2 separate regions of the Homo sapiens genome follow, and region 2 is linked to region 1. The links come from fine-mapping of genetic effects on gene expression. A gene starts in region 1. The other region holds a variant in brackets. All regions are shown on one strand. Distances are from middle to middle.

Region 1 (16,951 bases):
TGCCTGGCCCAAAAGGGCTACTCTTTAGAAAAAAACAACTAAAATAATTGTTTTATTAGGTGTAGGTATGTCATACTCTGTTTACTACGTATTTATATTATGTAGGGTATTTAAATCTCACATGCAAGAAGCAGAAATATACTTAAAGGCAAGGATCAAGTGTTCTGCAGTTGTTAATGTTTGACTGGGAGGAATGAGATGTCTCTGATTTGGGCCATATGAGGCCCTTGATTCACCCCTGTATTACTACCCCTAACTCTGTTTCTCCTCTTGGCATTCAGATTCTAAGTGTCAGCTAAGTATCATTTTTTCCATGAAGTTATCTTAACCTGCTTTAACGTCTGTTGAATTCCCTCTTCCCTTAACTCCTACTGTACTTACAGTCTGTATCAGAGCTTAATATTTAGTTGTTCTCTGGTTATTTCATATGTTCTTGTCTCGTGAGTAAAATTTCTTGAATGTAGAGATCCCCTTTTAAAGTAAAATCAGCCAGGCACGGTGGCTCAAGCCTGTAATCCCAGCATTTTGGGAGGCCGAGGTGGGTGGATCACGAGGTCGGGAGATCGAGACCATCCTGGCTAACACGGTGAAACCCCGTGTCTACTAAAAATACAAAAAGATTAGCCAGGCGTGGTGGCGGGCGCCTGTAGTCCCAGCTACTCGGGAGGCTGAGGCAGGAGAATGGAGTGAACCCAGGAGGTGGAGCTTGCAGTGAGCCGAAATCGCGCCACTGCCCTCCAGCCTGGGCAACAGAGAGAAACTCCATCTCAAAAAATAAATAAATAAATAAAATAAAGTAAAATCAACTATTTTTAAATAATATACATTTTATATTGTTGTTTTCCTCAACATTTTAAGAGATTTATCTTCATAAATATCGACAGTGCAATTCATTTAATTGTCAATTAAAGAATACAAATTTGTTGTTAAAAGATAAAGTAGGAAAAGAAAGTACCACAATCATACCACTCTGCAATAAACACTTTGTCTTCTTGCATTTCCTTCTAGGTTTTTCCCATATGTTTTCTCATGGGTTCATATTGTACATAATGTTTGTAACTTTTTAATCAACATATTGTGAACATCTTTTCATTATCAAAAAAAATCTACAAATCATCATTTTCTTTCTTTCTTTCTTTTTTTTTTGAGGCAGAGTCTCACTCTGTCATCCAGGCTGGAGTGCAGTGGTGCAATCTTGGCTCACTGCAATCTCTGCCTCCCAGGCTCAAGCAATTCTCCCACCTCAGCCTCCCAAGTAGCTGGGATTACAGGTGCACGCCACCACACCCAGCTAATTTTTGTATTTTTAGTAGAGACGGGGTTTCACCATGTTGGCCAGTCTGATCTTGAACACCTGACCTCAGGTGATCTGCCCACCTTGGCTTCCCAAAGTGCTGGGATTACAGGTGTGAGCCACCATGCTCAGCCTTCATTTTCTGTCCTTTTTTTTTTTTTTTTAAGACAGAGTCTTGCTCTGTCACCAAGCTGGAGTGCAGTGGCATGATCTTAGCTCACTGCAGCCTCTTCCTCCCTGGTTCAAACCATTCCCCTGCCTCAGCCTCCTGAGTAGCTGGGACTACAGGCATGCACCACTACGCCTGGCTAATTTTTTGTATTTTTAGTAGAGATGAGTTTCACCATGTTGGTCAGGATGGCCTCGATCTCCTGACCTGGTGATTCGCCGGCCTCGGCCTTCCAAAATGCTGGGATTACAGGCGTGAGCCACCGCACCCAGCCACAGCCTTCATTTTCTTAAACAACCTCCCATGGCTAGACATTTAGGGGCTTTCCAAATATTTGTCATCATCCCACAATATCCCAGCTAATGTTTTGTTCTTACTCCTTTGAATATCTGTTGCCAAACTGCCCTATAGAAAAAGGTTGCAATGATTTATATTCCCACTTGCAGGTGTGAGAGTGCCTATTTCTTCCCATCCTTGTCAACGATGGGTGGAATGATTTTTAAAAATCAGAGACTATTTCATGTATTTCTCTAGAGATTCTAGACACAGCTGGAGACGCAGTGAATATTAAATAAATAAATGCAATTAATTTGATAAATGGATTAATAATAGTGTTTTTGCACTGGGCGCGGTGGCTCACACCTGTAATCCCAACACTTTGGGAGGCCAAGGCAGGCAGATCACGAAGTCAAGAGATTGAGACCATCCTGTCCAACATAGTGAAACCCCGTTTCTACTAAAAATACAAAAAAATGGCTGGGTATGGTGGTGTGTGCCTGTAGTCCCAGCTACTTGGGAGGCTGAGGCAGAAGAATCACTTGAACCCAGGAAGCAGAGGTTGCAGTGAGCTGAGATCGTGCCACTGCACTCCAGCCTGGTGACAGAGCGAGACTCTGTCTCAAAAATAATAATAGGCGCAGTGGCTCACGCCTGTAATCCCAACACTTTGGGAGGCCTTGGCGGGCAGATCATGAGGTCAGGAGATCGAGACCATCCTGGCTAACATGGTGAAACCCCGTCTCTACTAAAAATACAAAAAATTAGCTGGGCGTGGTGGCACGCGCCTGTAATCCCAGCTACTCTGGAGGCTGAGACAGGAGAATGGCGTGAACCTGGGAGGCAGAGCTTGCAGTGAGCCTAGATACCACCACTGCACACCAGCCTGGGTGACAGAGTGAGACTCCGTCTCAAAAAAAAAACACACAAAAAAAAACAAATAAATAAGATAAATAATAATAATAATAGTGTTTTCTCCATGACGTATAGCTACTGAAGTTTTAAAGTAAGTAATTACTGGCTGGGCTCAGTGACTCACACCTGTAATCCCAGCACTTTGGGAGGCCCAGGTGGGTGGAACATCTGAGGTCAGGAGTTCAAGACCAGCCTGGCCAACATGGTAAAACCCCATCTCTACTAAAAATACAAAAACTAGCTGGGCATGGTAATGCACACCTGCTGTCCCAGCTACTTGGGAGGCTGAGGCAGGAAAATCGCTTGAACTTGGGAGACAGAGGTGGCAGTGACCTGAGATTGTGCCACTGCACTCCAACCTGGGCAACAGAGTGAGACTCTGTCTCCAAAACAAATAAAAAATAAAGTAATTAATTACTCATTCACTCAACATATTTACACCGCATATGATTGTCTTGATCTGCCTACTAAAAATGAATATAGCATTCAGAAATGAAACAAATACTTTATAAAGTGCGAAACATAAATTAAAATGCTGATAACTTGTTTCAAAGATAATATCTATAGAAGCTACTCTTAAAATTTGTCCCAGAGTCCTAAGAGGTCTCCTGAAAAAAAATATTGTCTCATTTTTCTAAGAATAGGCAGTACTAAAATTCCTCCTTTGAGAATTAAGAATATGAATTTAGGATAAGAAAACTCTCTCATCCATTAGCTATTAGAGTTTTCAGAATCATGGGAATTGTGCCAGAGAGGAAGTCAAAATCTGGTGTGGATTTTCATAGTACCAGACATTTCCTTCCATGTGCAGGTGGAATAAAATCAACACTAAAATTTGGCCAGGCGCGGTGGCTCACGCCTGTAATCCCAGCACTTTGGGAGGCCAAGGTGGGTGGATCACGAGGTCAGGAGATCGAGACCATCCTGGCTAACACGGTGAAACACCGTCTCTACTGAAAATACCACAAAAAATTAGCCAGGCGTGGTGGCGGACGCCTGTAGTCCCAGCTACTCGGGAGGCTGAGGGAGGAGAATGGCGTGAACCCGGGAGGCAGAGCTTGCAGTGAGCCGAGTTTGTGCCACTGCACTCCAGCCTGGGCAACAGAGTGAGACTCCGTCTCAAAAAAACAAAATAAAACAAAACAAAAAAACACTAATATTTTTGGGGAGAGTTTTAATGTTTCTATCAATTCCTGAAAGTTTATTTTATTTAAAGCTACTTCAGGGATAGGACGACTAGATGAATATTCTATTTAGTTAGGCAATTTAATTTTATAAGTCTCCTGTTCAATTATCAGAAAGATCATATGAAGGTGATAATCGGTCCCACTTCTCCAATGTACAAATCTTTTTATCTTATGTAAAATATTAACCATTAAAAATTAGCATATCTTTAAAAATGACTGATTGGAAACATCATTTAAAACGATATATTCCATAATTTTTTATTCCTCTCCCCATGATTGGTGGAAGGTGCTGGAATTGAGTTTGTAACTCATAAAGCAGTATGTACTGGAAAGAGAATGTGACTGGGGTCAGAAGATACTGGACCTTAGTCCAGTATCTTCTAGTAATAGCTGTTTAACTTTAGACAAGTCACTTCATGCCTTAAGCTACAGCTTCCTTTACTATAAACCAAAAATCTGGTTTAGGTCAGCATTTCCCAAAGTATGTGCTGTGGAACACATGTCTTGTAAGATGTTCCATTGGAAAAAGGGTTTCATGGTTGAATACATTTGGAAAGCGCTTGTATATAATATCTACCTCAGAAATTCCCAGTGCACATTAAAATATTAAAACCACCAGAAATCTCTCTAGTTTAGAAACCCATTGAACTGTCTGGCATTCTCATTTGATTAAAGGAACTTAAAATTTTGAGGGGGAATCACATCTACTAAAATCCTGTGGGACTAGAGTTCCAAAGAACACTTGGGGAAATGATGGACTAAGATGCCTGGATTTATGGTACTATTCTTTCTCATACAGGTATTCAGCCAGTTCCCTGAAACCTGCTCTTTTCCCACGCTCTTTATTTCAGAGGTCACCACCATTCAGTCACTCTTCTAAACCAGAATCCTGAGAGTCATTCTAAATGTCTCTGTTGCATTCACTCCCTCATATCCAGTTATATATTCTGTAGATTCTACCTGTTTAATATATCTCCCATCTAGTCCCTCCTCGCCATTTTATGACCTCTTGATTTTATTGAGACCTGCAGCACACATCTCATTAGGATTCAGGTTGTTGCCATCACCTCCTAATTTTCTCCTGCTCCAGTCTGGTCTTCTTGGTCTCCAAAACACAAACTCAGTTGTTCTGGAGCTAAAATACTTCAAATATTTTATTATTTACTACATTTCCCAGAGTATCAAATTCAAATTCCTTAGTTTAACAAGAGCCCCTTCATGAATGAAGCCCTTCCTACCCTTTCCTCCAACCTCTTTGACTCTTCTCTATGCCTGTTCTGACAAAATGGAATTACTTACTAATACGGTTTGTCTCTGTGTCCCCACCCAAATCTCATCTTATAGCTCCCATAATTTCCACCTGCTGTAGGAGGGACCCAGTGGGAGATAGTTGAATCATGGGGGTGGGTCTTTCCCGTGCTGTTCTCATAATAGTGAATAAGTCTCATGAGATCTGATGGTTTTAAAAATGGGAGTTTCCCTGCACAAGCTCTCTTTTTGCCTGCTGCCATCCATGTAAGATGTGACTTGCTCCTCATCACCTTCTGCCATGATTGTGAGTCCTCCCCAGCCATGTGGAACTGTAAGTCCATTAAACCTCTTTTTCTTCCCAGTCTCAGGTATGTGTTTATCAGCAGCATGAAAACGGACTAATACACTTACGGTGCCTCTAAAGCATGGTGATGCTTGGTGCTTCCACACACCTGCAGAGATATTGTTTTCTTCGTTTGGAATGCTTGTTCCCTCCTTCTTCTGGTTAGCTCCTCCCTATCATTTAACATTCAGTTCAAGAATCTCCCCATCAGGAAGGCTTTCCTGATCTGGTAATGGACTTCCAGTCTAACAATGACTTCCTTACCTGCTTTACCCACTAGACTGTATGCTTTTTGTAGGCAGGAAGCATCATGCCACGTCTTTCTTGTCTTTGTATTCCTGGGCCTTAATTGTAGCTTAATAAACTCTGATTGAATGAACGAATGATTTAATGGTTTAAAGAAACTGATGAGAACACTCTTTTCTCAATGACTGAAAGTGACCTTTTTTCTCTTTTAATTAACCTTGATCTTAGGCTAAGCACTTGGAGAAGAGTTGGCTAAGACCTATGTAAAAGGCACTCAATGGTCTATTTTTTTTTTTTTTCTGAGATGGAGTCTCACTCTTGTCACCCAGGTTGGAGTGCAATGGCAGGATCTTGGCTCACTGCAAGCTCCACTCCCAAGTTCAAGTGATTCTCCTGCCTCAGCCTCCTGAGTAGCTGGGATTACAGGCACCCGCCACCATGCTCAGCTCATTTTTGTATTTTTAGTAGAGATGGGATTTCACCATGTTGGCCAGGCTAGTCTCCAACTCCTGACCTCAGGTGATCCGCCCACCTCAGCCTCCCAAAGTGCTGGGATTACAGGTGCGAGCCACCACTCCTGGCTTCAATCGTCTATTTTTTTAAGGAGGTTTAAATGAATCATCTTCCTTGTAAGGTATCACACAGCCTAGTACATTTAATGACAATAGGATTCATTAAGTTTGGCACCCAGGTGTGTCTAATGTCAACAAACTTGGTCACAAGGGAAATGAGGTGAAAGACTAGATACATTTGTATAAAATTATCACTTATGAAAAATTTTAAAGCATTTATTAATTTATAAATACTTATTGTGCAAGATACTATGCTAGATATTGTGGGAGATACAAGGATGAATAAAGTGTTGTATTATATTCACTTTTGGAGGATAACTTCTTGAAATAATTAGGTGGCAAATGATGATTCCCACAAGAAAGGAAGAGAAGTCTAAAAGAAGTTGGTCAGCAGGATCATCTTCATTTATAAGAGATAGTATTATTCTTTTATTATTTTTATTTTTTATTATACTTTAAGTTCTAGGGTACATGTGCACAACGTGCAGCTTTGTTACATATGTATACATGTGCCATGTTGGTGTGCTGCACCCATTAACTCATCATTTACATTAGGTATATCTCCTAATGCTATCCCTCCCCCCTCTCCATCCCCCCAACAGGCCCCTGTGTGATATATTCCCTGCTTTGTGTCCAAGTGTTCTCATTGTTCAAGTCCCACCTATGAGTGAGATCATGTGGTGTTTGGTTTTCTGTCCTTGCGATAGTTTGCTGAGAATGATGGTTTCCAGCTTCATCCATGTCCCTACAAAGGACATTAACTCAACCTTTTTTATGGCTGCATAGTATTCCGTGGTGTATATGTGCCACATTTTCTTAATCCAGTCAAGAGATAGTATTATTCTATACAAGAATATTGACATACCTACTGAACTTAAAATACAAAAGGGCAGTTATGTTTCAAAAGTACAGATATCTCAAGTGTGAAAGGCAGCCAGTATCTGTATTGTATGGTTCTAAATACCAATTTGAAACAGATTGTGTACCAGTTTGGAACAGATTGTACAAAAAAGACTGAAACCACTTGAAAGTCCTCAAGAATATCAGGAAGTAAGAATGTAATTAACCAAACCAGGATTTGGCCCCAGGACAGAGAAATGAACACTCTCATTCTTAGAGAGGGAGCTAGGATTTCAGGAATGTACAGTCAATGCTTTGTGAAAATTTAAATAAATTCTTAGCAAGCAGATGGGAAGACATGAAAAAGCAATGTTCATTGCAACCAATTTCAGGTCACACTCCCAATTTCTCAATTGTTTTAATGCTGTCAACAAACTTGCTTTGCATGTAGCCAAGCAAACATAACTTAGTTCCATTTGTTCCTTTCTTTGATCAACTTTAGGTGAAGGTCAAAATAAGGACATACTTAAAATCTAAAAGTCTGCCGAAGTCAAGCCTGCATCTAAAGAGGCAGCAGCTGAGCTTAGCGATAAGGAAAAATGCCGACACCTTACTACTACACAATTCCGATGGGGTGGGGGGACAGAAATTAAGGAGGCAGGATTAACAGATTTCGAAGTTTAAAAAGTAAAGGTCATCGAAATGTCCCGTTCCTAAGTTTCCCAATACATTCCATGAAACTGCAGAGACTTTTTGGCCAAAATGGGATTTCCTAAAGAAGGGCCTCACAGATCTCAACGACAATGGTCCTGTAAGTGACCGAGCCAACCCCGGATGCGTTTCTGGAGTCTCTGAATACACGGACAGCGTATAAAGGTGGATGCGTACAGCTCCCTGACAGAACTGCTGGAGGCTGCTGTGCCTCCCAGGGCGCTAGGACAGAGGCTGCTGGGCCGGCTTCCTATGAAAGGCGAGCAGGGGGTGGGGCAGCACTGGGATTTTCCTCCCCACTCATTCATTCTCTGATTCACTCGTTCCTGTAGGCGGCTCACAGGGACTTGCGGAGGAAAGGCGAGGCACGAGCGGAGCCGCGGTTGAGTGCGGCCGGGCGCGGCCGGGCGCCTGAAGGGAGGGCGGAGGGCCGGCGCGGGGCGCGGGCTAGGGAAGGGCGGCGGGCGCGGCGGCCTGCGCCGGAAGTGAGTGGTTGGCGGCGGGCGGGGGCGGCGCGCGGTCCCGCGCGAGTCGGCCCTACAGTCGGCAGTCCGGCCCTCAACCCCGCCTTCTGCGTCTCGGCTGGACGCGAGCACACTCGGCTCCGCCGCCGCCGCCGCCGCCGCGGGGCGCTGCGGCCGCCCCGCCCCCGCTCCCGCCGCCGCCCGCCAGTCAGTCAGTCAGTCAGTCAGTCAGTCAGTCAGTCAGTCACTGAGCGCGCGGCGCGGGAGCTGCTGGCAGTCGCTGCGTCTCTGGCGAGGGAGCGCCGCGCCTGGGGAGGAGGCGGAGGCAGCGGCTGGAGGAGCGCGAGCGGCGGTTTCCTTGCCCGGGGCCGCGGGAAGGCCGACCGACTGCCGCGGTGAGTGGTTAGCCTCGCCCTCGGGGCCAGGGGGTAGGGAGCCGGCTGGGCGCGGGGCCGTGAGGCGCTCCTGCCGCTCCCGCCTCCATTTTCCCGGCGCCCGGCCCCGCCATCCGGGTGCGGTACGGTCGGCGGCAGCCTGGGGCGGGGTCGTTGCCAGGTTGGGGATCGGGCCGGGGCTGGCTGGACCGCTCCCGGCTGGTGGATGGAGGTCGGTGGGGCCTGGACTGCACCCTGCGCCCCTGGGGACCGCGACGGAGGGAGACAATGAGATAAGGGGCCGCCTGGGAGGGTGCGGTTAGGCTTCTCCGACCCAGCACCGGGGGCTGGTGGCCCGGGACCGCAGGGAGGAAAGGACTTTCCCCCGCCCAGCTGCAGAAACCAGCTACTGGATGTCGGGTTGCTTGGGTTTCGATGCCCCCATCTTTCATAGATGAGTTCAGTGCAGAGATTTTGAAAGGCGGGGCTCCTTCTGTGTCTTCTTTCTAATTAAACAGGATAAGTAATTGCTTCATTGCTTTTTAACCGCGTCTCCTCTTGCGGTCTGTATTATACATTCCCGCCGGAAATCCAAACTGCAATTCATGGGGGGGGGGGGGGGGTGGACGGAGGGAGGGGGCAGTGTGATAGTATTAGGATGCCTTCGTGTTAAGACAGGTTGAAAGATGTGGTTTTCTTAAGGCAGTGACTTAGGGTGTCCCCACTGTGTGAGCTGGAAACCGCATAAACCTTATTGCTTACAAGCTCGAAGACATGGTTTAATATGAAATAAGAGCCTTGAGGGAGGGTGTAAGTGTTACATGTGTCTTGCGTGTGTGCATTTCTTAAATTCTTTGGGAAGATCCGTTGGGGAAATCCGGGAGAATGGAAAAGTTCTTCACTCAATCTTCCAATAAGGGTTGATGTTGTCTGCAGCATTTCTCAGGGAAATGTGGAGAGCTGCTTATGTAGGTAAAGTCCACCGTTAAGGAACAGTAAAGGTAACGGGTTAGGGATGAGGCGTGATCGGATTATTAAAGAGTCAGTCCATGGGGATATTAAATTCAGCAAACATTTATGGAATACCTACTCTGTCAGTTAGGCTGGGTGACACCAGGTGAACAAGCATGGGGTGGTGGAAAGAGCTCTTCGGAGTGGGGGAAACCGTACGCCCTGGAATTGGCTTGCAATGTGAGTTGGATAAGCTATTGAACTCTGCAGTACGTTCCCTATCAGTAAAATGGGAATAACACCACCTGTTTACCTCCCCAGATGTTTTTCATGTAGATTAAATGAGATAATGTATGCAAAATGCGTAGCACCTTGCCTGGCATAGAGGTGTTTAACAGCACCTTAAATTCCTTTCCTCCTCGGGGTGGTTTTTTTGGGGGTGCGGTGCGGGGGGTTAGTGAATGTAGGTAAGTGTAATACAGTGAACTATATAGTAAAATGTTGAGGTATAGAATAGGAGAGCGAAGAAGAGAGATTAATTCTAAATTGAGGGAGGAATGCATGGAAGCCTCGGCATTTAAGTGAAACCTTTAAGGATGAGTAGGATTTCAGCAGATTCAGATGGGGAGGAGGACATTTCACATGGTGGTGCTATCCTTTGAGAGCCGAATTGAGGGGGAGGACCTTTGGGGGAGGGGCAAAATAGAGACGCTCAATAGCTTTTAACTCTTGTTGAGTCTGACCTTCAAAGATTGTCTCCGTTATTTTGCTTTTTGTGTGGTGAATTTCCCAGAAACCAGATGCAGCCCTACTCAAGTAAGTACAAAAAGCTTAATTCATGATTTTTTGGGTTAGACATTTTGTATAATTTAGATTGCTGTCTCCTGTTTGAATGTAATAAAGAATTATTTGTAGATGTTGCCTTATGATAAACGTTAGCTTTATTTGGTAGAAGCAGCAGCTTATTTTTCAGACTCAGAGGTCTCACTAAGATTATAGAGTATGTGACTGGGTGAAAGGAGTGGAGTAGTGGGCACTATTGGGTGTGTTTTCACAAATATTTAACTCTTTATTTTCCAAAGAGGTGTTTTTAACCATTGTCTTTGAGGATGATTATGTCTTTTGGTTTTGCTGCCCTTTGGTGCTCACCCCATAAATACTTACTAGATTGGCATCGTGGATAACTGTCACACTATTCACAGATTCTTGGTTACACATTGTAGAATCTCATGGCTTTGGTTGCCTTGGTTTGGAAGTAATTGAATGTCAACATTAGTATTGTTAATCCCAAACACTTAATTTTAGGAAAATTAATATTAGTGAAGCAAGATGTGACCTCAGGCAGATAACTTATCTTGGACTCTTAATTCCTTTACCTATAAAATGAGAAGTTTGGATTAGATCACTGCTTCTTAAACTGTTTCACTGAACTTGAGAATTTCAGAGATTCTGCAGATGTTTGACTTTAATCTCAATAAAAATGTATTTTAAACTTATAATAATAAAAAGTGGCCACTGTATGACGTACACTGTTTTAAACACTTTATATGTGATAATTTATTTAATTCTCGCCATAACCCTATGAAATAGAGTCTATTATTTGAGAAAATAGGCACAGACAATAAGTTGCCCAAAGACTGCAGAGCTATAGTGGCAGAGCTGGATTTGAAACCGGGCAGCCTAATTCTTAAGCTTGTATTCTTAACCATGTTTTTACACTGCCACTAAAGCAACACACACATATACTCTTTGAAAGAAATGTGGTAAAGTATGCATAACATACAAATTACCATTTTAACTATTTTTAAGTGTACAGTTCAGTGGCTTAAGTACATTATTGTGCCATCATCACCACCATCTCCAGAAATTTTTTATCATCCCAAACTGAAATTCTTCCCATTAAACAGTAATTCTACAAGCCACAGTGCGCTATGATCATGCACACTGGGTGACAGAGTGAGACCCTGTTCAAAAACAAAACAGTAACTATCCACTTCCCTCCCTCTACCCTACCCTCCTAGTAACAACTTTTCTACTTTTGACTCACACAATATTGATTCTTGTGTCTGGCTTATGTTACTTAACACACTGTCTTCAAGATCATCCATGTAGGATGTATCATAATTCCATTCCTTTTTCAGACTGATTAATATTCCGTTGTATGTATATACCACATTTATGGATATTTGGGTTGTTTCCACCTTTGGGGTACTGTGAATAATGCTGCCTTGAGTATTGGTATACAACTGTTTGAATCCCTCCTTTCGGTTCTTTTTTCAGTATTTCTATACACCCAGAAATGGGATTGCTAGATTGTATGCTAATTCTATATTTAATTTTTGAGGAACTGCCATATTGCATTCCACAGCAGCTGCACCATTTTACATTCCCACTAGCAATGCACAAAGGTTCCAGTTTCTCTGTATCTTGCCAACACTTCTTTTCTAGTGTTTTTTCTTTTTATGTTTTTGATAATAGCTATTCTAATGGGCGTGGTGTGGTATTTCATTGTGGTTTTGATTTGAATTTTCCTAATGATTAGGGATGTTGAGCATCTTTTCGTATGCTTATTGTCCATTTGTATATCTGAGGAGAAATGTCTATCCAAGTCCTTGACTCATTTTTAAAGTAGGTTGTTTTTTGGTGAGTTGTAGGAGTTCTTTGTACACTCTGGATATTAATCCCTTATCAAATATATGATTTGCAAACATTTTCTCCCATTTTATGGGTTATCTTTTCACTGTCTTGATAGTATCCTTTTGCACAAATTTTTTTTTTTATACTTCAAGTTCTGATGTACATATGCACAACGTGCAGGTTTGTTACATAGGTATACGTGTGCCATGTTTGTTTGCTGCCCCCATTGACTCGTCATTTACATTAGATATTTCTCCTAGTGCTATCCCTCCCCCAGCCCCCCACTCCCCAAACACAAAAGTTTTAAATTTTGAGGAAGTCCAATTTATTTTTTCTTCTGTCTGTGCTTTTGGTGTTATATCCAAGAGGCTGTAGCCAAATCCAATGTCATGAAGGTTTTCCCTGTTTTCTTTTAGGAGTTTTATAGTTTCAACTCTTATGTTTAGGTCTTTGATCCATTTGGGATTAATTTTTGCAAATGTGTTAGGTAAGGGTCCAACTTCATTCTTTTGCATATCCAGTTTTCCCAGCACCATTTGTTGAAAGGACTGTCCTTTCCCCATTGAATGGTTCTGGCACTCATACTCATTCATATATACACATGTGTATATTTATATGTATGCATGTGTGTATATAATTTTTTTTTTTTTTTGAGATGGAGTCTTACTCTGTTGCCCAGGCTGGAGTGCAATGGCACAATCTCAGCTCACTGCAACCTCTGCCTCCCAGGCTCAAGCGATTCTCCTGCCTCAGCCTCCCGAGTAGCTGGGATTACAGGCATGCACCACCGTGCCCAGCTCATTTTTGTATTTTTAGTAGAGACAGAGTTTCATCATGTTGCCCAGGCTGATCTTGAACTCCTGACCTCAGGTGATCTACCTACCTCGGCTTCCCAAAGTGCTGGGATTACAGGCGTGAGCCATCACGCTTGGCCTAAATTTTTTTTAACACATTGAAGACCATAGTGCTACATGGTTATACGTGGCTAATTTTGGGGGTGCGATGGGGCAGAAATTCCTAAGAATAAAGCTTTTCCTTTTATTGTTTAAAACATTTGGATCAGTGTATTTGAAGAGTATCCTGAAGACTGTAGATGGGACTGTTAAGAGCTGCAACTGCTTACCTGGGTGAAATCAAAACAAAGCATACAAAAATAAATGGATTGTTTAACATCTCTAACCCTTAGTTTATCTCTTTATTTGAGTTTACAATAAATTAACATAATGTATTTGAACATAAAATAGCAATGCTTTTGCCAGCTTTATATATTTGAGAGGCTGTGTAAAATTTCATCTGGATGAGTTTTGTTGTGAAATAGTTTTTAAAACTCCAGACTGTATGATCTCTAAAGCTTTTTCATATGCTCTTCTTGCTATTAAGGTATTTTTCATGCTTTAAGGCAGATGTCTTAAACTATATCACTTATGTCTTATAAATTGGCTTTTTGAAAAGTATATATGTATTTGCTCTTAATAAAATGCATACTGTTTTTCTGCTCTAAGCAGAGCTAGGCATAATAGAGAAATCTAAGATAGGTATTCTGTTCTCCACAATAGAGAGGATGCCAGTTTAGGTATAAAATACGAGGAATCAGTAGAAGATGACACTGAAGACGCAGGGACCACAAAGAAGCAGAAGGGTCTTTGAGTTGAAAATGGGTGAACAGATAAAGTTTACAAAAGGAGGAACAAGTCATCCCTTTAGATGAGAAGAAAAACAAGATCAGGAAGCCAAGGATTTACCATTATGTTAGACTATTAAAATTTAAGCCCCATGGTGAAGAATGGTGATAGCTAGCAAAAATTGGACTGTAAACATATTCAGTAGGCCCAGTATTATTGTAGAATCTTAAGTCAATTTTGCAATGGTATTTAAAACTTTGGCCGGGTGCAGTGGCTCATGCCTGTAATCCCAGCACTTTGGGAAGCCAAGGTGGGTGGATTGCCTGAGGTGGGGAGTTTGACACCAGCCTGACCAACATAGAGAAACCCCATCTCTACTAAAAATACAAAAAATTAGTCGGGCGTGGTGGCGCATGCCTGTAATCCCAGCTACTCAGGAGGCTGAGGCAGGAGAATTGCTTGAATCTGGGAGGTGGAGGTTGCGGTGAGCCGAGATGGCGCCATTGCACTCCAGCCTAGGCAACGAGAGCAAAACTCTGTCTCAAAACAAAACCAATAAAAAACTTGGATGCTTTTGGAAATTACTTTTAGAAGGATTTTACTGAGTTTGATAAGTGAAGAAAAGTATTAGGTTAAATCAGTAGAGCAGGCCAGGTGCGGTGGCTCATGCCTATAATCCTAGTATTTTGGGAGGCTGAGGCAGGTGGATCGCTTGAGCCCAGTTTGGGACCAGCCTGAACATGGCAAAACCCTGTCTCTACAAAATATACAAAAATTAGGCAGGCATGGTGATGTGTGCCTGTAGTTGCAGTTAACTCGGGAGGCTGAGATTGGGAGCATCACCTGAGCCTGGGAGGTCAAGGCTGCAATGACAGAGTGAGACCCTGTCTCAAAAAAAAAAAAAAAAAAAAAAAAATATATATATATATATATATATATATAGCAAAACAACCAGTAATATGACTTGAAAATATATTCTTTATATATCCCAAATTTTGCATGTTTCCCAAATATAATTTGTTCTAATTTTCCAATAATGTTTACTTTATAAAGGATAATTATTTCTTGGCTCATTTGGTTTATTTCATATTGTAACAAATGACATTGGAAACTGGTAAAGGAAATCAGTGATCCTACTTATCTGTGAATAGTGTACTTAATAAGCAGTAATGGTTCAAAATTTTTTTACCCTAAGTTTTTAGAATAAACATATACAGTTTAAGGCAGCAACAATGAATATGATACGTTATATTTGAAAAATCTTGGTTATAGTACTCATTAACACAGAAATTTCCAAATCTGGCTCTTGAATCTGTTTATTATGTTACTGGTTTTTAATGCTTCTCTTAGCTGACAAGGCAGCTCATGTAGGAACATATATCCAAAAAGAAGAAGTGCCTCTTCGGCTGTACTTTCTATTAGGAGATACTGTTAAGTTTGTATCCATCAATTATGCAGATTGGGCTAGTACAAAGTTTGTTCTCCCTATTTGTCAATCAGCTATTCTTGCAAATCAGTGTGAGGATTTGTATTTATAAAGTTTTAATAAATGGATTCAAAATCCACCAAAACTGTGTTTGGAAGGCATTTAAAAAGTTAGAAATGGCTTCTCTGTTCTTAGAGTGTGTAGATATGAGTATTTTAAGATGACACATTTTTTTTTTTTAGAATACAGCTATTTTCTTACTAAGTTTTAAAATGTCTCATTTACCTTTAAGGTACAGATGCATTAACCATGTTTCTGTTTTTAGAAACTATGTCTAGGTAGCATACTGCCACAGCACAGCCACTTACAACAGAAATTCAGCAAATTTAGAACTCTACTCTTTTTATAAAAGATAAATGCTTACTTCATCTTTAAATTGCACAATTTTTTAAATGATTTGCCATGAGACAAACCTGTTTGGTACAAAATACCATGATCACTCCTTAACAACATCAATAACAACATCCGTTAACACTTGGCTCTGTTCTTGCTTCAGTTTCTCTTTTATTCTGCTTTGCCCTTGGACTTAAACCTTACCCTCTCCTCCACCTTTGTTTCATTGAGGTCAAAGCAGCTGCTTCATGAAGGATTATATAATACAGTTTTCTATACTTTTTTTTTTTTTTTTTTTTTTTGAGATGGAGTTTCACTGTTGTTGCCCAGGCTGGAGTGCAATGGCTCAATCTTGGCTCACCACAACCTTCGCCTCCCGGGTTCAAGCGATTCTCCTGCCTCAGTCTCCCGAGCAGCTGGGAATACAGGCATGCGCCAACACGCCCGGCTAATTTTTTGTATTTTTAGTAGAGACGGGGTTACTCTGTGTTGGTCAGGCTGGTCTCGAACTCCTGACCTCAGGTGATCCGCCCACCTCAGCCTCCCAAAGTGCTGGGGTTACAGGCATGAGCTACCACGGCCAGCACATAAAACGTTTTTATTGAGGAAATCATTTACTGTTGAGAATATGTCTTCTCTGGAATACCAGTCTCTCGTAGAAGCTTACAAAAGGGTAGATCCTTTATTATTGAAAAAGAATCAATGTATTAAAGATAGTAATTACTATCACTCTAGCCTCACAATACCTACAATTATTTAATACCAGAATACTTATGTTACTTTGTATGGTGTGTGATTCTCTGACAGGTGGCCACGGTGAAGACGCCAGTGTCTGTATGTTAAGGATAAATATGTATTATATATAAAATACATGTGTGTATTAAGATAAGGATTAAATAAAAATAGAACTTCTAATAAGATGTTCGTATACCCCAGTGAATCATCACTCATACATCCTGGGGTATAAATGGAGGTAACCATTTTGGAAACTACTATACAGTCTTACTGAAGTATTGTTAGGCCAAGCACGGTGGCTCACGCCTGTAATCCCAGCACTTTGGGAGGCCAAGGTGGGCGGATCACCTGAGGTCAGGAGTTCTAGACCAGCCTGGCCAATGTGGCAAAACCCTGTCTCTACTAAAAACACAAAAATTAGCTGGGTGTGGTGGCATGTGCCTGTAATCCCAGCTACTCAGGAGGCTGAGGCAGGAGAATTGCTTGAACCTGGGAGGGAGAGGTTGCAGGAGCTGAGATCGCACCATTGCACTCCAGCCTGGGTG
Region 2 (16,951 bases), 34 kb after region 1:
TTCCTACGTTAGCCTCCTGAGCAGCTGGGATTACAGGCAGGCGCCGACAGTATTAAATGTATCTTTTATCAGTAATGAGTGGTAAAATGTCTTTCCTAGGAATTTTACATTTATGAGATAGAAACAGAAAGCAGACATCTTGAAGCTTTTTTGGTTGTATGTATTAGGCCATTCTCATATTACTATAAAGAAATACCTGAGACTGTATAATTTATAAGTAAAAGAGGTTTAATTGGCTCATGGTTCTGCAGGCTATACAGGAAGCATGATGCTGGCATCTGCTCTGCTTCTGGGGAGACCTCAGAAAGCTTATACAATCATGGTAGAAGGTGAAGGGGGAACAAGGCAGGTGACATGGCCGGAGCAGGGGCAAGAGTAGGGGGGAGGTGCCACACACTTTTAAATGACCACATCTCACAAGAACTCACTATTGAGAGGACAGCACCAAGGGGATGGTATTAAACTATTCATGAGAAACCACCTCCATGATCCAATCACCTCACACCAGGCCCCACCTCCAACATTAGGGATTACATTTGACATGAGATTTGCAGGGATACCCATCCAAACTATATCAGTGGGGGATATTTGATCAACTTTAGTAATACCTCCTATCTGGATGTTGGGAAGAGGTCAGGAAATATGTTAATGAATAATGCAAAATAGAAGTGATTTACTGTTTTACTCCTTTTGTTCTGACAGTAACAAAAGTAACACAGTTTTAATAATCAAAACATCTTTAAAAATACCCATCTTGAAGTCTGTATTTACTGTAAGCATTTCAATTTAATTAAATACTAACTTTGGATTTGGAACCGAATTCTGATTTTTTTCTGACCTACTTGTGATGTTAACGAACTTTTTAAAAAATTACTTATTTTTTTAGGGCCGGGTGTGGTGGCTCACGCCTGTAATCCAGGCACTTTGGGAGGCCAAGGTGGTTGGATCCCTTGAGGCCAGGGGTTTGAGAACAACATGGCAAAATCTCATCTCTATAAAAATACAAAAATTAGTCAGGTGTGGTGGTGTGCACCTGTAATCCCAGCTACTCAGGAGGCTGAGGCACAAGAATCACTTGAACCTGGGAGGCAGAGGTTGCAGTGAGCCAAGATCGTGTCACCACACTCCAGCCTGAGTGACAGAGCGACTCTCTCTTAAAAAAAAAAAAAAAAAAAAAAAATTATTTTTTAAATGACTCTTTTTGCATCTGTGAAAGGATGTCTGATGAATAAATATCTTTCTAAGATGCTAAATTTTTATAAATAAGCTAAAAAGGTTAACTGAGTAAGCAAGGCAAATATACTTTAGGAAAGGGAGCATATGCATACATAATAAAAACCATATATTGGAGAAATACACAATTATTTTTCAGTGTCCTTAGACTAAACGTATTAATTTAGTAAAAGTGTTTTATAGCTTGTCTTTTTTTCCTTTTCCTTAAATTTATTTCTGAAATTTAGATGATCTATTTGTTAACACACTGTTTTCCTAATTATAGCTTTCTGAGGGTAAAGACTTTTTTCTTTTTATCTCTCCTCCTTCATCTCTCTCTTTCTTAATTTATTTTGATATACTGTTGACACTTGAACAACACAGGTTTGCACTGTGTGGGTCTGCTTGTATGCAGATTTTTTTTCAGCCAAACATGGATCATTGTGGTGATGTGAAACCTACGTATATGGAGGGTTTACTGGACTTGAGTATGCATGATTTGGGTATAGGTGGAGGTCCTGGAACCAGTCCCCCTGGTGCCAAGGGAAAACTGTAATTTCAAACCTACAGAAAAGTTGTAAGAAGAATATAAACAACCTCAAGGCCAGGCGTGGTGGCTCACGCCTGTAATTCCAACACTTTGGGAGGCCGAGGCAGGCGGATCACCTGAGGTTGGGAGTTCGAGACCAGCCTGACCAACATGGAGAAACCCTGTCTCTACTAAAAATACAAAATTAGCCAGGCATGGTGGTGCATGCCTGTAACCCCAGTGTATATTTCTTTCTTTCTTCCTTTTTTTTTTTTTTTTTTTTTGAGACAGAGTCTTGCTCTGTTGCCCAGGCTGGAGTGCAGTGGCGCTATCTCAGCTCACTATACAAGCTCTGCCTCCCGGGTTTACGCCATTCTCCTGCCTCAGCCTCCCAAGTAGCTGGGACTACAGGCACCCACCACCACATGTGGCTAATTTTTTTGTATTTTTTTTTTTAAGTAGGGATGGGGTTTCACTGTGTTAGCCAGGATGGTCTTGATCTCCTGACCTGGTGATCCGCCCGCCTCAGCCTCCCAAAGTGCTGGGATTACAGGCATGAGCCACCGTGCCCGGCCCCAGTGTATATTTCTTAAGATCAAAGATGTTCTCTTACGTCACTGCAATACTGTTATCAAAATCAGGAAATGTAACATTGATTCAATACTGTGATCTAATCCAGTCATATTTTGTCAACTGTTCCAACATTGTCCTTATGGCTATGTTTAGATATTTTCCCTGGGTCTAAGATCCAGTCCAGGTTCAAGCATTGTATTTAGTTGTCATGTCTCTTTAAGTTCCATTGAATATGGAACATTTCCTTAGCCTTTCTTTGTTTCTTGGCCATCACATTATTGAAAAGTGTTGGCCAATTATTTTGTAAAATGTCTCTTATGATTTGATTCAGGTACTGCATTTTTTGCAGGAATAACTACAGTGATGTTGTATCCTTCCCAATGCATTATAACTGGAACCCTCTGATGTTGGTTTGCCTTTGTAGTGATGATATTTTGGTCACTTGGTTAAGGTTGTCTTCTGAGTAATTTGTGGGGAGATATTTTGAGAATATATGTCATCAAATTTTCACCTACTAGTTTTAGCCTCTATTGATGATTCTTGCCTTGATTTTTTAAAACTTAGCAACTTGGTTTTTAAATTACTTTTAAAATAAATACTTTATAATTATAACAGTGGTTGCAAAATGGTGATTTTTTTTTGTCATTTCATCTACATTAAGTAGTTGGCATTCTACAGTAAGTAAGAGCTTTCTTCTTTACTGTGTATATTTTATTTAATTCAATATGGATTTTGTGGCCAGGCACGGTGGCACACACCTGTAATCCCAGCACTTTGGGAGGCCGAGGTGGGCGTATCACCTGAGGTCAGGAGTTCAAGACCAGCCTGGTCAACATGGTGAAACCCTGTCTCTACTAAAAATAAAAAAATTAGCCGGGTGTGGTGGCAGGCGCCTGTAATCCCAGCTACTTGGGAGTCTGGGGCAGGAGAATCGCTTGAACCTGGGAGGTGGAGGTTGCAATGAGTTGAGATTGTGCCATTGCACTCCAGCCTGGGCAACCCAGAGTGAAAGTTCATCTCAAAAAAAAAAAAAATATATATATATATATATCTATATATATATATATATATATATAGATATAGATAGATATATAGATATAGATATATATATAGATATATAGATATAGATATATATATAGATATATATATCTAGATATATATAGATATATATATAGATATATATATATATAGATATATATCTATATATGGATTTTAGTCAGTGGATTATAATTTGTTTCTATCATAATTTATTTCAGTATTTAACTTTTCACAGATTAGACCCCTGATCTGGGCCTTCAGGCTGGTTCCTGTGTCCATTTGACATGTGCCTATCATTAATTGAGGACTTTTTGCCACTAGATGATGTTCTAGAGGCTCATCTTGTTTTTTGTTTTTTGTTTTTTGTTTTTTTTTGAGACGGAGTCTCGCTCTGTTGCCCAGGCTGGAGTGTGCAGTGGCACGATCTCTGCTCACTGCAAGATCTCATCTTGTTTTTTTTCCCTGCCCTGCCCTGGAATTACTACTCCAGGTGTCTGTTACTTTTTGTGTAGAGTGTATACAGTATTTTGAAACCAAAAACTGGGAACCAAGTGTGCTAATTAATTACCTGGTGTCATTGCCACCAGGCTTTTTCAGTGGACATACCTACAAACACATAATACACACATCTCTGTCTTTATTTCTGCCCATCTTTTTGTCTGTTTGAAACCTTGAGTTTATTTATACTGATAATTCAATACCTAATCCAAATGACTTCCAAGCTATAGGCTACGTCTATTTGTTACCCCCTTTCCTCTCAAAGCATGGGTTGCCTCTGGGATTGGATTTCTTGCCAGTGCGTTTGGCCATCTGGTAGGGGAATAGGTAGGACAAAAGTGAAGAAAAATACTGCTGCCTCCCTCGTGAGGCTTTCCATAGTTTCAAGACCGTTTTCTCTAAGAGGAATGAAGTTGCAGCTTCTACTTCTAGTTGAGGCTGGAGTGGACATGCACAACATCAGCTGTCTGCAAAAATAACTAAATAGCTACACTATGTAGTATAACAGCAAAAGGTCTGAAGTGTGGAGCAGCCGTGTGTGTGTGTGCGTGCGCGCGCGTGTGTGTATAGTAACTATTCATTTGCTAGGGCTGCAGTAACAAATTACTACACGCTGAGTGGCTTAAAGCAACAGAAATTTACTGTCTCACAGCTCTTGAAATTGAGAATCTGGAATATAAACAACACAATCAATTATTTGTTGTTTTTCAGTTTTTATAGTTTTTTATCTACTCTGTGGTTTCAGATAATGCTTTATGGCATATTGTGTAATAGTTAATTATAAGATAATCAGAACTTTTTATATATAGGGATGTTAGGGGTTTCTTTGTAGAGCGTTGAACTAAATTGTATTTTTCCACTTTAGTGATATGGTTTGGCTGTGTCCCCACCCAAATCTCAACTTCAGTTGTATCTCTCAGAATTCCTCTGTGTTGTGGGAGGGACCCGGGGGGGGTAATTTAATCATGGCGGCCAGTCTTTCTTGTGCTAGTCTTGTGATAGTGAATAAGTCTCATGAGATTTGATGGGTTTATCAGGGGTTTCCACTTTTGCTTCTTCCACATTTTCTCTTGCCACCGCCATGTAAGAAGTGCCTTTTGCCTCCCACCATGATTCTGAGGCCTCCCCAGCCATGTGGAACTGTGAGTCCAATTAAACCTCTTTTTCTTCCCAATCTCAGGTTTGTCTTCATCAGCAGCCTGAAAATGGACTAATGCAGTAAATTGGTACCAGTAGAGTGTGGCGTTGCTGAAAAGATACCCAAAAACGTAGAAGTGTCTTTGGAACTGGGTAACAGGCAGAGGCTGGAACAGTTTGGAGGGCTCAGAAGAAGACAGGAAAATGTAGGAAAGTGTGAAACTGTCTGGAGACTTGTTGAATGGCTTTGACAAAAATGCTGATAGTGATATGAACAATAAGATCCAAGCTGAGGTGGTCTCAGATGGAGATGAGGAACTTGTTGGGAACTGGAGCAAAGGTGACTCTCATTATGTTTTAGCAAAGACACTGGCGGCATTTTGCCCCTGCGCTAGAGATTTGTAGAACTTTGAAATTGAGAGAGATGATTTAGGGTATCTGATGGAAGAAATTTCAAAGCAGCAAACCATTCAAAAGGTGACTTGGGTGCTATTAAAAGCATTCTGTTTTAAAGGAGAAACAGCATAAAAGTTCAGGAAATTTTCTGCCTGATGATGCAGTAGAAAAGACAAACTTTTTTTTTTTTTTTAGGAGAAATTCAATCCAGCTGCAGAAATTTGCATAAATAGCAAGGAGCCTAATGTTAATCCCCAAGACCAGGGAAAATGTCTCCAGGCCATGTCAGAGACCGTCAGGTCAGCCCCCTCCCATCACAGGGCCCAGAGGCCCAGGAGGAAAAAGTGGTTTCGTGGGCCGGGCCCAGGATCCCTGTGCTGTGTGCAGCCTAGGGACTTGGTGCCCTGTGTCCCAGCCACTCCAGCTGTGGCTGAAAGGGGCCAACATAGAGCTCAGGCTGTGGCTTCAGAGGGTGGAAGCCCCAAGCCTTGGCAGCTTCCATGTGGTGTTGAGCCTGCGGGTGCACAGAAGTCAAGAACTGAGGTTTAGAAACTTCGGCCTAGATTTCAGAAGATGTATAGAAACACCTGGATGCCTAGGCAAAAGTTTGCTGCAGGGGTGGGGCTCTCATGGAGAACCTCTCCTGGGACAGTGCGGAAGGGAAATGTGGGGTTGGGGCCCCCACACAGAGTCCCCACTGGGGCACTGCCTAGTGGAGCTGTGAGAAGAGGGCTATTGTCCTCCAGACCCCAGAATGGTAGATCTACAGACAGCTTGCACTGTGCACTTGGAAAAGCCTCAGACACTCAATGCCAGCCCGTGAAAGCAGCCAGGAGGGAGGCTGTACCCTGCAAAGCCACAGGGGCAGAGCTGCCCAAGACCATGGGAACCCACCTTTTGCATCAGCGTGACCAGGATGTGAGACCTGGAGCCAAAGGAGATCATTTTGGAGCTTTAAAATTTGGCTGCCCCACTGGCTTTTGGACTTTCATGGGCCCTGTAACCCCTTTGTTTTGGCCAAGTTCTCCCATTTGGAACGGCTGTATTTACCCAATACCTGTACCCCCATTGTATCTGGGAAGTAACTAGCTTGCTTTTGATTTTATAGGCTCATAGGCAGAAGGGACTTGCCTTGTCTCAGATGGGACTTTGGACTGTGGACTTTCAGGTTAATACTGAAATTAGTTAAGACTTTGGGAGACTGTTGGGAAGGCATGATTGGTTTTGAAATGTGAGGACATGAGATTTGGAGGGGCCAAATGATATGGTTTGGCTGTGTCCCCACCCAAATCTCAACTTGAATTGTATCTCCCAGAATTCCTATGTGTTGTGGGAGGGGCCCAGGGGGAGATAATTGAATCTTGGGGGCCAGTCTTTCTTGTGCTAATCTTGTGATAGTGAATAAGTTCATGAGATCTGATGGGTTTATCATGGGTTTCCACTTTTGCTTCTTCACATTTTGTCTTGCCACTGCCATGATTCTGAGGCCCTCCCAGCCATGTGGAACTGTACGTCCAGTTAAACCTCTTTCTTCCCAGTCTCTGGTATGTCTTTATCAGCAGCATGAAAACAGACTAATACAGATGGGGAGTTCCTGTTTGCGGTTTAATAGATTAAGAATATCCAATATTATGAAAATCTAATGTAAATAAAGGAATGCTTATTCTCATTAAAATTGGTTCATATTTTCATTTTTTTGTTTGTTTGTTTGTTTGTTTTTGAGACAGAGTCTCGCTCTGTCACCCAGCCTGGAATGCAATGGCGGGATCTTGGCTCACTGCAACCTCTACCTCCTGGATTCAAGTGATTCTCCTGCCTCAGCCTCCCGAGTAGCTGGGATTACAGGTGCCTGCCAGCCACTACATCCAGCTAATTTTTGTATTTTTAGTAGAGATAGGGTTTCACCTTGTTAGGCTGGTCTCGAACTCCTGACCTAAGGTGATCCGCCTGCCTCGGCCTCCCAAAGTGCTGGGATTACAGGTGTGAGCCACTGTGCCCGGCCTGGTTCACCTTTCTGTAAAAGGAATTCTTTTTTTTTTTTTTTGGGACGGAGTCTCACTCTGTTGCCTAGGCTGGAGTGCAGTGGCGAGATCTCGGCTCACTGCAAGCTCCACCTCCAGGGTTCACGCCATTCTTCTGCCTCAGCCTCCCGAGTAGCTAGGACTACAGGCACCTGCCACCACACCCGGCTAATTTTTGTATTTTTAGTAGAGGCGGGGTTTCACCGTGTTAGCCAGGATGGTCTCAATCTCCTGACCTCGTGATCCGCCCGCCTCGGCCTCCCAAATTCTTTTTCTAAGGGGTTCATTTAAGTGCCTGATAAATAAAACATTAATAAAATTGCCTTTGAATTTGATTTATAACTCTTAGGCAATACAATCTCTACCAACTGTTAAAATAGTTCTAGTTTGTTTTTATGCTTCATTATGTGATCTTAAATTACTTCACAGTTAATGTAGATGATAGTGAAGAGGATGTGTTAGTTACATCCTGGGTTGTCAGAAATGAAGGCTTAAATCAAAGAGATGGCATAAGGGTGTAAATCATCTTTCCTAGTACTTCTCTGTCCTCTGGGTAAAGAAGAATTTACCGTGACTGGCCCAAGAATAGCATACCTCTCTGTTAGGAAGGTTTGGTTCCATCTGGCAGTTTTACAAAACTGAGTTCCAGGTGTCAGCTCACTCTGAGGACCAGGCCATCCATGCAAGTTCCCTGGTAGCTAGTTAATTCAGGCTTGCTTCTATGAAGCTTCTGAATAGCATAGCACATTGCTTCCTTCTTAGTCCCTTTCAACACATAGGAGACTGTAG[C/T]TTCCTTTAAATTTGCTTCATGCACTGGTCTACAAAAGGAACTTTGTTGCTAGAGAATTTGTTAATCAAGATATCTTATATCTGTCGTCCCAGCTACTCAGGGAGGCTGAGGCAGGAGGACTGCTTGAGCCCAGAAGGTCAAGGCTGCAGGGAGCCCTGTTCTCCCACAGTTAGTATTAATGTTCTTTGAAGTTACAGAATTTGTATTTGTTTTTTTGCCTTTTTTTTTTTTTTTTTTCATAATGCTTAGCTTGATGCTTTGTAGGCAGAGTATTTTCGAAGGTTTGGATCCTAAGTAGAACCTTTCTGTAGGCCCTTTCTATTGAGGGTCACTAATCTACAGAGGAAACTTCAGTGATGGATATATAAAAAGCAACTTTTAACTTTTTTTTTTAACTCATCTACTTTATAAATTAAGAGCAAAAGTTATAAAATTATGTTTATTTTTTTAAGAGATGAGGTCTCGCCATGTGGCCCAGGCAGGTCTCAAACTCCTGGGCTCAAGCAGTCTGCCCGCCTTGGCCTCCCAAAGTTGCTAGGATTACTGGCGTGAGCCACCATACCTGACCATGCAAATTCATTTTTAAAACTTCCCAGACGGTTTATTAAATTCCCAGTTTCCATTTGGGCAATTTATAAATAACAGCACTTCATTCACAGCAGAACTAAAGGTCTTGTTTTAAAATAGTGTAGTTGTAGGTAATGAGAGAAAGAAACCAAGCATACCAGGCACTGCCCCATCTGATAAGTAATTAATCCCCTACAGTTATCTTTCCATTTTACATTATGAGTGTCCTACTTCTTTCCTTTCCTTTCCCTTCTCTGCTCTGACTTCCTCTCTCCTCCTTTTGATGAGTCCTCTTCCTCTTTTTGTGCCTTACTAAATTTAACATTTTTTTTCTTATTGTTTCTCTAGTCTGATTTACGTTTCCTTCCTCTTGCTTTTATTTTGCAACAGTTGTAACTTGCACAGTTGGGGTACTCCTTGAACATGGAAGTCTTCACCTCCCTCCTGCCCCTTTCTCTAGTGCATGTTTTTCTTTAGAATTATTTTTAAGGTTAGAACAGCATAGGAGGTGTTTCTAAAACCATTTTTGTGAGAAAGCTACTGAAACATAACTGGAAATAAAGAACTAAAATTTATCTGTAAATGAATAACTGTGAGAGGAAGCATGAGACTATGGTAATGGAAGAGGAATAATTGGGGTGTGTTAATGATGGATCCTCATGGTACCTGATTTCCTTATGGTTTTAAGGAGTACTCATTCTAGTACTTATTTAAGGAGTCCACATTTACCTTTAACCAAATTGTGGTTACACAAAATGGCATTACTTACTGTCTTGCAAGAGCTCCCAGTAATTATTAAACAACATAGTTGTTTATATTTTGTTAAACTTAAGTGAGTATAAGCAATACCCTGGGTAACTTGTTGAAAATATTCCATCCTCTTGACATTAGTATTCAGTAGATCTTGAGTGGGCCATTTTAAAACTGACTTTAAAAGATGCACCCCAGGTAATTTTGATGCAGGTCATCAACAAACCACAATTGGAATAACATTGCCCTACAGGATAAAGTCCAAAGTTTTTGGTATGGCTTAGGATTTTGCCGCTTCCTCCTCTCTAGCCTCATTTTCCATGAGTCTGTACCACCCATCCTATGCTTCAGAAATGCTAAGTCACTTTGAGTTCTAACATGTTGTTCTCACGTCTTTATACCCTTGTATATGTTGGTTCCTCTGCCTAAAACACCCTTCTCCTTTCTCTTACATATTCACTCTTCAGGTCTCCACTGAAGCATCACCACTTTCCTATCTTCTCAAACTGAGTTAAACTACGCTCACTTAACATACCTCTTTTATAGCACTTAACAGAGTGTTTCATCATTGTTGGTTTCCTTTTCTGTTCCCTACTAGATTATATGTTCCTTGAGGACAGAGGTTGTCATGTTCATCTCTGTTCCTCCAGTGTCTGGCATGGTGAATGTTCAATGAAATCAAAGCTTCTCTTGTGTCTTTGGAACATTGAGCACTCTAGACCCATGGAAATGGCTCTGATAGCACTCTGCTGTCCTGTATCTGAGCATGTTCATGTGGTTTTAAGTTTAGAGGGCTGACCCAAGATGGTGCCCAGCCTATAAGAAAATGTCTGGGGGCACCTCATTTGATGTGTATGGTTAGTGGAAATTAAGCTGTATTGGGGAATTGGAGAATAAGGTTCATCAACATCAGCATTTAGAGAATGGAGAGTGGTTTTAGAGTGTGAATTCTTTAAGAAATGTTGTAGGACCTAAGTTTTTTTTGGAAAGTCTCTGAGTAAGTTTCTTAAGTTTTTTTTTTCTTTGAGATGGAGTTCACTCGTCACTCAGGCTGGAGAGCAATGGCACGATCTTGGCTCACTGCAGCCTCTGCCTCCTGGGTTCCAGCGATTCTCCTGCCTCAGCCTCTCAAGTAGCTGGGATTACAGGCGCCCGCCACCATGCCCAGCTAATTTTTGTAGAGACGGGGTTTCACTATCTTGGCCATGCTAGTCTTGAACTCCTGACCTCAGGTGATCCATCCGCCTTGGCCTCCCAAAGTGCTGGGATTACAGGTGTGAGCCACTGCACCCGGCCAGTTTTTTTTTTTTTGTTGCTGTTAAACTAATCCACATAGGGACAAATTGAAAATAGGACAAAATTGGCAAAAGTAACTTAAGTAGTTAACGTTCAATAGATACTTTCAAAATTTCTGTTAATTTTATGTTTCTCTGTCATTGCTGTCATGTTCTCTAGCGATATTTTCCTTAAGTCGGCAGTAGTAGTCTAGATCAAAACAAAACTATAAATGAAAATTTTTAAAGGGATTTTTAAAATAGCCTGTTTGAACAGTAGGAAAAAAACTCAGTTTAAAACACGCTAGCTTTGGATGCAGAGTCTGTACAGTCATGTGTCATTTAATGATGAAGATACTTCCTGAGAAATGCTTCATTAAGCACTTGTTGGGCCAGCATAATAAATTGTACTTACACAAACCCAGGTGGTATAGTCTACTCCACACCTAGGCTGTAGAGTATAGCCTGTTACTCCTAGGCTACAACCTGTACAGCATGTTACTGTACTGAACACTATAGACAATTGTAATACAATGGTATCTAAACCTAGAAAAGGTACAGTAAAAATACTTATGGGACCACCGTATAAGCAGTCTGTCATTGATCTGAACATCATTATGAGCACATGACTGTAGTTCTCTTTGGCTCCATTGTAATTTAAATTATTCCTTTAATTTGAACTATTTTATATTTATCTTACAATGTTATTTTCGTGTTGTTTTATTTTTCCCAGTATGGCATTTTTTTTATGGGCAGTTACACTCTGTTCTCAGAAGTCCAGGATTTAAACCTTTCTTAAAATCATTTTTAAAAATTTGAACTCTTGGTTTAAATGATATCTAATGTGGAAGCCCTATCTGTAAGATGCCTGAAATCGGAGGTGTTGTTTGAAACAGCAGACCTGGAGTGCTGTCCTCTAAGCCCTTCTCCAAGAACGGAGCTTGCCACCCTTTCTGATTAGCTTTCCTCATTTATAAAATGGGAATGATATAATACCTGCCTATCACAATGGTTCGTGGAGGCTTATGACTAATGTTCTCTCCCTGTTCTCTTTGATTATAACTTCCTCTTAGTGTGTGTTACGATGTTCATACATCACAGATTTTCCTGATGATGAGTCACCTAAATATCATGTGACCACATTTTTACTATGGAGAATATAGTCACCATAAACCCAGTGCCTTGCGTATTATTGCCTAAAATACTCATTAAAGTTACTAAAGCTGCTGTTTCTGCCAATAGTGACATAATGGTATCTGTTGGACAACAGTGCTGCAGGCCCAGTTGTTTTAAATGTACTTAAGAGATATAAAATGTAATTAAGAATAAGTATTACTCTCTCAAAACAGAATTCCTCCTAGGATATTTTCTGGGTTATTCCAATGTGTTTAGTTTGAAAGATTAGGAAGTAAAAGCAAGTATATTCCAGATTATATTACTTATTAACCTTCTTTATGAAAACTGGCTATTACTGCTCCTGAGTGTTCTCAAACTAGCACCTATTTGAGTAATTAAGTCATCTGGTCAGATGAGGTTTTTCTTTTCAGTAACATTTTATGTTTTTCCTGGGTAGATCACTTAATGAACTCTGATACCAAGTTTCTGTTGAGATTGACCTATCAATTATATAGTAATGAATAAAATCTTAGAAATAATATTGTTACAAATTGTAAAAACCAAATCTTCTTAAGAATCACATTTATGAATTGGGAAATTGGTAGATCCATTTTTCACTTGCCAGGGTAGAATGACCTGATTTATATATGATTAGAGTGATAAAAGATTAAGAAATGGAAATTATCAGTTTCTATTAGAGATATATTTATTAGAGATATTGGTTAGCTGTGGTTCTTCCCAGTATTAGGAGAATTAGAAAATTATTTCCCTTAAGTAATTAAATGAGATATGATATGATTTTCAGCATCTGAAAACTAAATTCAGTTTAATTTTGTAACATTATTTGACCCTTTCTGCAAAATTTTATATAGTGAAATAAGATTGAAAATTTAACTTGATGATACCATGTCAGATAATTAGATTCCTTACATTTTCTCCTAACCTTTAAGGATCCCAGATATAATTTTGTGGATTGCTGCTTTGAAGATACCAGTCCATGTGTGCTGCTGCAATAAAATTCCTGAGACTGGGTAATATATAAAGAACAGAAATTAATTTTCTTACTATTCTGGAGGCTGGGAAGTACATTATTAAAACACTGGCATTTGGTGTCTGGTGAGGGCTTGTTGCTGGCTTCCTCCACAGGGAGGCACGAGATGTGCTCTTGCATAGCAGAAGAGTGGAAGAACAAAGTACTCCAGTGCTTCATGAAATCTCTTTTATAAAATCCTTAATACCATTAATAAAGAAGGAGCCTTTATGGCCCAATCACTTCTTTAAGGCCCCACCCCTTAATACTATCACATTGGCAACACTTGAGTTTTGGAAGGGACACATTAACACCATGGCATATGTATATCAAGTTAGTAAAGATTAGGCATATCTTTTTTAATGGAATGCCCATACACCATATATAATCTTGGAGGAATTGCTTAAACCAGCTGACAGGCTATATTCCAAATATTGCCTAGATCTACCATAACAAAATTCGTGTTTTAGAAATGTGAGTCAAGAGTATTTAATGTAACATATGGTGATGATGTTCATTGTGTCCCTGGGACAGAAGTTGAAGGAAAAGGGATTGTGGTCAAATAACTTAGGAATATGCTGGTTTTTCTAACAAATAAAATTTTATCAGATTTTAGTCAGTAACTATGATATTAAGAAACATAAAATACCTACCATAACTTTGTAAACCAGGGTTTATAATCTGCTAACTTGAAGAAAAAAAACATTTAATTTGTTTCAAGTTCATACTAACATGCCTGCCTGATTTTAATTTTAATTTTGGAATATGCTGGCTGGTTTAAGCAAAGCTAGTGTTTATTTGAAGATTTTCCAGGGCCTTTAATATTGAAATATTTATATTTATCAGATTAATCAGTCATTGATCTTACATTGTTTTATGTAATTTTTCTTCCCATCTTCTCAAAATAATGTGCAAGTTCCATGTCAGATATCACACTATTTTATTTATTTATTTTTTGAGACGGAGTTTCACTCTTGTTGCCCACACTGGAGTGCAGTGGCATGTTCTCGGCTCTCTGCAACCTCTGTCTCCCAGGGTCAAGTGATTCTCCTGGCTCAGCCTCCCAGGTAGCTGGGATTACAGACATGCACCACCACGCCCTGCCAATTTTGTATTTTTAGTAGAGACGGGGTTTTGCCATGTTGGCCAGGCTGGTTTCAAACCCCTGACCACAGGTTGATCCACCCGCCTCGGCCTCCCAAAGTGCTGGAATTACAGGCGTGAGCCACCACGCCCAGCCACACTATTTTATTAATGGGAAGAAGGAAGATAATTTCTTCTTTCAAGGGACTTATATTTGAAAAGTCACCACATAACAGGATTTGGATCTGGATTTAGAAGTTTTCAATTCTGTTTCCTTTTTGGGTTTTGTTGGAACTGATGAGGAAGTAAGGTAGAGAAAGAAGACAAATGGGATAGAAAGTGAGGGTAGGAGGGTAGAATAGAAAGAAACAAAACTAGATTAAGATTTTTGTTTTGTCAAATTTTCTCTTAAATACTTGTTGGACTAAGGTTTTGCAGGGTACCTATTGGTATCTAAACAGATTTTTACAGAATAAACAGGACAATAATTTGCTCCATTAAAGTCTTCTGAAATGGCTTCTTTGTGGTGTTTGGGTGTCCTAGGATCTAGTAGTGGAGAGAACTGTACTACTGTTATGTCCTCTGCTGATTGAAAGGGGTGCTCTGTTAATTTTTTTAGTAATGCGATTCTGGTCATAATTTGATACTGTTGGCTTTTCTTTTACAGTTTCCTAAAAAATTTGAAACTTTATTCTTTGTTTCTACTCACTTGTGAACACTGTCTCCATTAATGACTTAAGATTTTCTTTTAGAATGTAATTTCTAGTTTTGAAGATTTGACTTCAGAGGCATATAATATATATCAGAGCATATATGGCATAATTTTTCAAGTTAAACCTGTAACTTACTATTCATTCTACACAAATGTCTGTATTTCAGATGGAGCAGCTATCAGATGAAGAAATTGATCATGGTGCTGAAGAAGACAGTGACAAGGAAGATCAGGACCTGGACAAAATGTTTGGAGCCTGGCTTGGAGAACTAGACAAACTCACTCAGGTGAGTAGTGCTTGAAAAACTGGTTGAGGATTTGAAGTCACCATTGTGTTAAAAGTTTAATGTGCAGAAGAGGATATGGATATAAGTTAAATTTTAAAGTATTGCCAGAAAGGAAGAAATGTTCGAAGTATTGACAAGTAAATGAAGTCATTCTAGAACAGAAGATATTAAGAATCTATGGTTATTTTAAGGATGTTAAAAAAAATACTTGTGAGAGAGGCTCTGTTCATCTAGAGGGGTTACTTAATATATGTTTCATAAATATGAGATAATTAGCTAAAAACTTTTAAAGCCTGAAATTCAAAAGTCTAAATTTTAGAAAACCCTGTTACCTTAGTAAATTTGAATACATTTTCAACATAAATAATTTCCTTCCACGTAAATATTTTCTGTTTTTCTTTTTTTTTTTCTTTTTTTTTTTTTTGAGACGGAGTCTTGCTCTTGTCATCCAGGCTGGAGTGCAGTGGCGCAATCTTGGCTCACCGCAAGCTCCGTCTCCGGGGTTCACGCCATTCTCCTGCCTCAGCCTCCCGAGTAGCTGGGACTACAGGCGCCCGCCACCACGCCCGGCTAATTTTTTGTATTTTTTAGTAGAGACGGGGTTTCACTGTGTTAGCCAGGATGGTCTCGATCTCCTGACCTCGTGATCTGCCCACCTCAGCCTCCCAAAGTGCTGGGATTACAGGCGTGAGCCACCATGCCTGGCCCCATGTAAATATTTTCTATGACATGATTGTAGAATACTGACAAAACCTAATTCTGGGCTGCATTTTAAAACAGTGGCAAAATCTTTTCATTTTGCTTTATTCGATCTTGGGTTTTTAAAGAAGGTGACCTTGTCCTCTAAACCAGCACACTTTTTAGAATAAAAGGGTACTGTTATTATTGCCCCAGTAATACATTATATTCACTGTGTGAAGATGGTTATGTTTATTAAATAAATTTAACTTCATGGCAATGAGAACATTAGAACAAAACTTATTTACTCATAAATAATGTCTTTGGAAAGAACATTTGTGTAAAATTGCGTAGGTATGAGATTCCTTAACTAAAGGAAAAGCAAAGTGGGCAAGGTGGAAGCTTAAATTACTAGCAGCTTATTTCTGCAGCAATCTAGAATTCAAAGTGATAAACTCTTCGTGTAATTCTTGCTAGATCATTTTGAAAGGCAGACATCTTTGTGACCATAATCTGTTAATACTGTATTTTGGGGGGATTTTTTTTTTTCTTTTTTCTTTTTTTTTTTTTTTTTTTTTTTTTTTGAGATAGAGTCTCACTCCTGTCGCCCAGGCTGGAGTGCAGTGGTGTGATCTCAGCTCAGTGCAACCACCGCCTCCCGGGTTCAAGCAATTCTCCTGTCTCAGCCTCCCAGGTAGCTGGGATTACAGGCATGCGCCACCATGCCCAGCTGGTTTTGTATTTTTATTAGAGACAGAGTTTCACCATGTTAGCCAAGCTGATCTTGAACTCCTGACCTAGGTAATCCACCTGCCTCGGCCTCTCAAACTGCTGGGATTACAGGTGGGAGCCACCACACCTGGCCAGGGGAGAATGTTTTCAACTCCTACTAGGATTTCATAGGTATCATTCCCTTCATCTCTAATCAGAAGAAGTGACATTTTTTGTCAGAGATGTCTTATGTCTGTAACTGCCAAATTCTTTCTGTTTTAATTCTTAATTTATAAAAAGGGTGATTTAAGCATAGAGATTATCACTAGGCTATGCAGTCCTGCTCTGGGAGAGAGAGGAAGCAAAGAAGAGCAAATAGAAAATGATAATGCATGGAGAAAAGTATGCAAGGGCCAGCTGACATGTGGGGTGTTCTTGACCATGTGGTTTTATTGTCCATGCTTGGGAGGAGGGGCCCAAAAGAGAAAAGGCAGGTAGATATTGGTCCAGCTGCTCTGGGTGAACTAGGAACTACATGATGCTGCCCTG

What was found.
Region 2: its variant is fine-mapped to the expression of RAPH1 in whole blood (TOPMed, PIP above 0.99).

What each region holds. Positions count from the first base shown.
Region 1 is chr2:203,526,823-203,543,773 of GRCh38, reverse strand. RAPH1 (Ras association (RalGDS/AF-6) and pleckstrin homology domains 1) reads left to right here and starts at 8,473. Exons shown (of 14, transcript NM_213589.3): 1 at 8,473-8,663. RefSeq lists silencers at 8,325-8,394, 8,445-8,534, 8,605-8,704.
Region 2 is chr2:203,493,296-203,510,246 of GRCh38, reverse strand. It overlaps RAPH1 (Ras association (RalGDS/AF-6) and pleckstrin homology domains 1), which reads left to right. Exons shown (of 14, transcript NM_213589.3): 2 at 14,894-15,013. The coding sequence starts at 14,894. Among named protein-coding and RNA genes, the nearest start is that of RAPH1, 34 kb to the left of the region's middle. The variant C/T (reference allele first, on the strand shown) is at 8,194.